Homo sapiens: one gene and its partner. The protein of the gene in region 2 purifies or fractionates together with the protein of the main gene of each other region. This does not show direct contact. Each region holds a gene or a part of one and is shown on either strand. Other genes may lie near its edges.

Evidence for each region.
Region 1: the proteins of ZNF280D (region 2) and CBX1 purify together in Homo sapiens (affinity purification with mass spectrometry; 4 studies listed by BioGRID and IntAct, with this or other methods). This does not show direct contact.

What each region holds. Positions count from the first base shown.
Region 1 is NC_000017.11:48,094,653-48,098,478, forward strand, and holds part of CBX1 (chromobox protein homolog 1), read right to left. Parts: intron 1-3,826. UniProt on the Homo sapiens protein: Component of heterochromatin. Recognizes and binds histone H3 tails methylated at 'Lys-9', leading to epigenetic repression. Interaction with lamin B receptor (LBR) can contribute to the association of the heterochromatin with the inner nuclear membrane.
Region 2 is NC_000015.10:56,629,464-56,632,623, forward strand, and holds the end of ZNF280D (zinc finger protein 280D), read right to left. Parts: intron 2,660-3,160; coding exon 2,035-2,659; 3' UTR 713-2,034; downstream 1-712. UniProt on the Homo sapiens protein: May function as a transcription factor.

The DNA of each region.
Region 1 (3,826 bases), on a different chromosome or scaffold from region 2:
CCGGAAAACGGGGTTAGGATGCAGTGAGCTGAGATCGCGCCACTGCACTCCAGCCTGGGTGACGGACCAAGACTCTGTCTCAAAGGAAAAAAAAAAAAAAAAAGTGTGCTCCTGACTGGGCTTGGTGGCTCACACCTATAAATCAGTACTTTGGGAAGTCGAGGCGGGTGGATCACTTGACGCCTGGAGTTCAAGACCAGCCTGGCCAACATGGTGACACCCCATATCTACTAAGAATACAAAAATTAGCCAGGTGTGGTGGTGCATGCCTGTAATCCCAGCCACTTGGGAGGGTGGGGCACAAGAATTACTTGAACCAGGCAGGCAGAGGTTGCAGTGAGCCAAGATCTTGACACTGCACTCCAGCCTCAGTGACAGAGCAAGACTCTGCCTCAAAAAAAAAAAGAAAGAAAAAAGAAAGTAGTGTGCTCCTGTACAGGGCCAACAGTCAAAATCCTATCCATTCTTCAAGACCCAGCTTAAAAATGCTACTTTCTCCATGAAGCCTACCCAACCTAGCTAAATAATATTTCTCTTTTCTTTGGGGTTCCCAAAGCATTCTGTTTCTATTTTTACTTGCACATACAATTAAAGGTAGGTCTGGAACCTGAACAAGTTGTTGAACCCTATATGGACAATAAAGATGGATGTCTCAGGTGGGGCGCGGTGGCTCACGCCTGTAATCCCAGCACTTTGGGAGGCTGAGGCAGGCAGATCTCCTGAGGTTGGGAGTTCGAGACCAGCCTGACCAACATGGAGAAACCCCATCTCTACTAAAAATGCAAAATTAGCTGGGCATGGTGGTACACGCCTGTAATCCCAGCTACCTGGGAGGCTGAGGTTGCGGTGAGCTGAGATTGCACCATTGCACTCCAGCCTGGGCAACAAGAACAAAACTCCATCTCAAAAAAAAGAGGATGACTGTCTCAGAAGCATCAGGGAATAGAATTCCAAAGCTATAAGCTTTTAAGGGAATAAGCAGCAAGATAAATCTGATCCATAAGCCCTAAAGAGAAAACAAGAAAGAAGTACCTTTTGTTGAAAGAATCAGCAACTACATACCAATCATCAAAAGGCAGGTGAAGGCATGTGTAGTATATTCAGGTGGTAGTCTTGTTTCTAAACTGCTTGTAGTCTGTAAGCTGTGGCTGTTTGCGAAGCAAATGCTTTCCAGATGGAAAACTTGACTAAGCAGAAAACAAGAACTTATGCCACACACAGTTAGCAGGAGTTTCTTTTTTTTTTGGAGATGGAGTCTTGCTCTTTCACCCAGGCTAGAGTACAGTGGTGCAATCTCGGCTCCCTGCAACCTCCGCCTCCCAGGTTCAAGCAGTTCTCCTGCCTCAGCCTCCCGAGTCACTGGGATTACAGGCATGCACCACCACGCCCAGCTAATTGTGTATTTTTAGTAGAGACGGAGTTTCTCCATGTTGGTCAGGCTGGTCTTCAGTTCCCACCTGAGGTGATCCACCCATCTAGGCCTCCCATAGTGCTGGTATTATAGGCGTGAGCCATCACGCCCAGTCAGGAGTTTCATTTTTAAAGGAACACCAGCCCTTGAATTCCAGAGGATCAAAGGCTAGAATGCTGGTGTGCGAATACATTTTGAATTTTATCTGAGATGTGTTCTGAAACTTGGAAAACCCCTTGAGTATGTTGACATGGATATTTTGACACAGATTTTTGGGTTGAGAGGCCACAAGAGTCTACAAATGTTAGTATGGACACAGAGATACCTCAAGCTATCTTTCAAAGGTGAATTTAAGATAAAATAAAAGTGGTTAGAAAGCTAGACCAGAATTATGACTACATTGGAAACGTATCAGAACACCACAGTGGCCAGGCATGGTGGCTCACACCTGCAATCCCAGCACTTTGAGAGGCTGAGGTGGGTGGATCACTTGAGGTCAGGATTTCAAGACCAGCCTGGCCAACATGGTGAGACCTCATCTCTACTAAAAATACAAAAAAAGTTAGCTGGGCATGGTGGTGTGCACCTGTATTCCTAGCTCCTCAGGAGGCTGAGGCAGGAGAATCACTTGAACCCGGGAGGTGGAAGCTGCAGTGAGCTGAGTGGAGTGCACCACTGCACTCCAGCCTGGGTGACAGAGCAAGACTTGTCTAAAAAAAGAAAAGAAAAACAAAAACCACCACAGTGGGCCAGGTGCAGTGGCTCATGTCTGTAATCCCAGTACTTTGGGAGGGTGAGGTGGGAAGATTACTTGAGGCCAGGAGTTCGAAACTAGCCTGGGCAACATAGTGAGTCCCTGCCTCTATTTATGTGAGAAAAATAAAAGTTCAAAAACCCCCACCACAAGTTGGGCGTGGTGGCTCACGCCTGTAATCTCTGCACTTTGGAGGCCAAGGAGGGTGGATCACCTGAGGTCAGGAGTTGAAGACCAACCTGGCCAACATGATGAAACCCCATCTCTACTAAAAAAATACAAAAAATTAGCCAGGCGTGGTGGCAGGCGCCTGTAATTCCAGCTACTTAGGAGGCCTGAGGCAGGAGAATCACTTGAACCGAGGAGGCGGAGGTTGCAGTAAGCTGAGATTGCGCCACTGCACTCCAGCCTGGGCAACAAGAGCGAAACTCCGTCTCAAAAAAAGAAAAAAAAACGCCACCACATTGTACCCCATAAGGATACACCATTCTTGTCAGTTAAAAATTAATACTATAGGCTGGGCGCAGTGGCTCACACCTGTAATCCCAACACTTTGGGTGGCCGAGGAGGGTAGATCACCCGAGGTCAGGAGTTCAACACCAGCCTGGCCAACATGGCAAGACCCCCATCTCTACTAAAAATACAAAAATTAGCCGGGCGTTGTCGGGGCCCCCTGGTAGTCCCAGCTACTCCGGAGGCTGAAGCAGGAGGATCGCTTGAACCTGGGAGGCGGAGGTTGCAGTGAGCTGAGATCGCGCCACTGCACTCCAGCTTTGGCGACAGAGCGAGACTCTGTCTCAAAAAAAAAAAAAAAAAATTAATACCATAGTTCTGTTACGCACTCAAAGTGTCAACTATTATTTTAAAAGGCACAATTTCACAGACAAATTAGGTTGCCCCCTTCTGGTCATCAAAGTATAAATGCTAAAGGCAGGAAAGATTTAATACAAGTTATTCTATGCAAATATTGACAAGATCTAAATTTTGTCCATATCTGAGTAACTTCTCCAAATAACCTTGGAAAGGCTATTCAATTTTTCAACAGACATTGCTACTGGTAAATTATTGCTCAGGTCAATACAAAGGACACAGAAGATTTTTCAAGATTCTTTTAAAACAGATATATTCAAGCTATTTGCTTGCTGACAAAACCCAGAATCTGAGGCCTGAGGTATTTAAAACGGCCAGTTGCACAGCCTGTATACCTTTTCTATATTTAGTACCAGAGTGAGTACAAAACTGAAGCTAACCATTCTGGGCAACAGAGACTGTCCCCACAAAAAAGAAGCCATGCATGGTGGCATGAGACTGTAGTCCTAGCTACTCAAGAGGCTGTGGTGGGAGGACTGCTTGTGTCCAGGAGGTTGAGGCTTCAGTGAGCCATGATGCCACCACTGCACTCCAGCCTGGCAACAGAGCGACACTCTGTCTTAAAAAAACAAAAAACAAACAAACAAACAAACAAAAAGAAACTAACTGAGGCTAAGACAAACATGGCAAAGCAACAGCTTAACTCTGCCAAATGTCACAGACACAGGACAAGCAAACTACTATGCACATTAATTTGGCTGAGTTCTCAGAATGGATCTCAAAGCTCCCCTATTCATCATTCATTCATCAACAATCTGAACGGCCTACTATGTGCCAGGCACTAATGAACA
Region 2 (3,160 bases):
AATTCAGCTATTTTTTTTTTCATTGCCAGACTTTCTCAATGAAGCACTTACAGTCCAGTATAGGTTCCTTTTCTCATAGTATATAGGTACAAACAGTTCATTGACCTGCTACTTTGAATACCACTACTCAAAAGGTATATGGGGGCTGATGTAGCAAAGCTCCAAAGGGATTATGGTGTCATAATGTGATAATGTGGCAACAGACTGAATGAGACTCACAAGTGGTCCTTATAGAGACAGGCGTTTTTCCTAACCCTGCTCTTCTAAGGTTTATATTATTCCAAAAATCTTCCATGATACAGAATTACATTTTAACAAGGTGAAGGATGAGAGCTAATGGCTCCCTCTCTCCCTATCTTTTCTTGGGAGCAGGAAAGATAAAAATATTAGCTCTCCTCCCCAAAATACTCCAAATAATTCATAATATATTTTGCCTATTTAGCCTCTTTAAATTGTTGGGCAGATAGAAAAGTATAATATTAAATTCTATTTCTCTTGAAGTAAAAGAATTTATAAAGCAAATCTATTCTCATAAATATTAGCAATATTGTCCCCTGTACTTTAAGTCCTAATTTAAAATAATGTATCAGCAGTTAAAGAATGTAGAATGGAATCCTCACCACTAACACTGATATTAAATTTCTTGAACAAGTATATAATTTCTAAAGGCACCAAAGGTAATCTGAATCAAGCAGTGATTGGAAAAATAGAATTATTCGGGGGCAGATTTTTATTGCAAATATTTACTCAAAAACTACTATATACAGCAGAGTATTTTAATCGCCATTTAAAACATTGAACATTCAGTGAAACAAAATTTAAGAATCCAAAGCACATTTTAAGAAGTAAAAATGAAGCATTTTAAATAAAAGTTTATTAGTATTTCAAAGCAAACTACTGTTCTTCATATTATTCATTTCTATATCTATTATATTCTAGATGATAAAAAGAACTGAAAAATCAATTTAGCAGCCATCTTATAGATAAATTAGGCTAAATTTCCAAAACCAGTTCTTTTACATCACTGTTTTAGGTCCCATTTGAAGTTTTTATTTTACAATTACAGAAAAGTCACTTAAACATGGCTGAATACATGCCAGGACATGTTTTCAGTTTACTGCTTTACAATATCTACATTATACCATACTTTGGTTTGGCTTCCAGACCATTTTTATGGGCCTATTTCTAAGGAAGATCATTAAAACAATATTAAAAGCATAATAGCTACAGGAGTTTCAACAATGGGTTTCTACTTTACATTAATACAACTAATACATCAAAGAATTTCTACACAGCTTACACACTGACAAAAAGCACAAATATAAATTTATATCTTAATAATTCCACTTTCACTGAAAGTTTAATTAAGGTAAGCTTACAGCCTGGCAGGCTAACACTTGTATGGAGGTACAAAGATTCAAATATTCTGTTTACATGCGTCTGACTGGAATGTTATATTAAATCCAAAATTAAGTTTATGTTCATCCAAATTCTCATTAGATCAATTTAGTACTCTAAGCATGCTCCATTTACCAGCATCATCCTCACAAATAAAGCCTTCATTAACAATGCCAATCAGCCATTGTTTTTAATCAATTACTCCCCAAAAGTACATGGTTTCCAAATCCCTTCCTCTCAGTTAACTGAAAAGGATATACAGGTAATAAAGATTTTTAGCTTAGGATTGATGGAAGTTTGAAAGGCTTTATAAATATTACTAATATCATCAATTCATGTCAGCAACCAAATCCCATTTCCTTGAAAACCATTAAATGAGACCTTTCCACTGCAAATTTAATTATCATTAAAATCCTGTTCGTGTTTTTAAAAACTTTTTGGGAATCCCTACTAATCATGCTATTATTGGTGAATTGATTTGTTTGATAACATAGGTTGAACATACAGGTAAAGTGTATGTGTGACCTCCCTTACATATTTCCATTTCTGAACCTACAACAGCACCACTGAGCTCACCTGATAGCACTGTTCCAAATGCCCTTATCGTTGGTACACTGAAACTTAAAATGACTAATTTCAACTTCTTTCTTTTTCGTCTTCCAGGTCTACTGTTGCCTCTGTTGTGCTAGGGTTATTTCCTCCAGGAATGTCATCTGTTTGATCAGACACTACTTCATCAGTCTTGGCTGAAGGATCACCACTACCTTTCTGAAGAATCTCTGTGGCTTCATACTCAAGTACCTCGGATGGAGTCAGAGGTTCCAAATGAATACTGCCTTGCTCGCTAACATCAGAACTAACAGATTCAGGTTCATGTCTTTTTCTCAAAAACTGATCAATGCTTACATTATCTGATGCTAATCGCAAATCCTTAATATTCTTTGAAGAAAATCTGGCTTCACTGGAGTTGTGATCTTTAATCTGATCAGATAAGATTATGTTTTCTGAACTTTGGCACATCTTCAACTCCATTTCCTGACAAACGTGTTGTATTTGTTTTTTCTTTTCCACTTTATCTGCACCAATATTTGAATCACAACTGACGATGTTTTTTGAGCCAGTTTCCTGGTCTGCAAGACAGGTTTCATTTTCCTTATCTGAAACTGTTATGCTTTCTTCACTTTTTGTTGTTGATGAGCCTTCAAATGAATTTGCATTACATCCATTTTTTTCTTTTGAAGAAGCAGCTTTATCTTGTTTACTGAAAAATAAAGTCATTTATTATGTATTTCTTCATAAAGCAATGTTTTTGAACACTGTCAAAATAAAGACGTGTTCTAAAAAATAAAAAGTCAAGGTACATTTGCCCACCAAAAAGGAAAACAGTCCAAGTTCCCAATCCTCGCTATGGCAGTAAAATTTAGGAGGAGGCCATTTTCTTAGGCAAGATTCTGAGAAACTCTGGAATCACATACTAAAAGATATCTATCAACTAGTTTTAGTCCTGGCTGTCATTATTTTCATCTGTTCATATCTCTTGCCTGTTTCTAGTTTAAATTTAAGTATTTTTATTAACTTGTAAAAGTACCTAAAATAAAAAAATATATTTGGAAAAAAATCTATATTTTTTTATGATTTTTTTTTTTTTTTTTTTGAGACAGGGTCTTGCTCTGTCACCCAGACAGGAACACAGTGGTGCAAATATCTCACTGCAGCTTTGACCTCCTGGGCTCAAGTGATCCTCCCACCTCAGCCTCCCAAG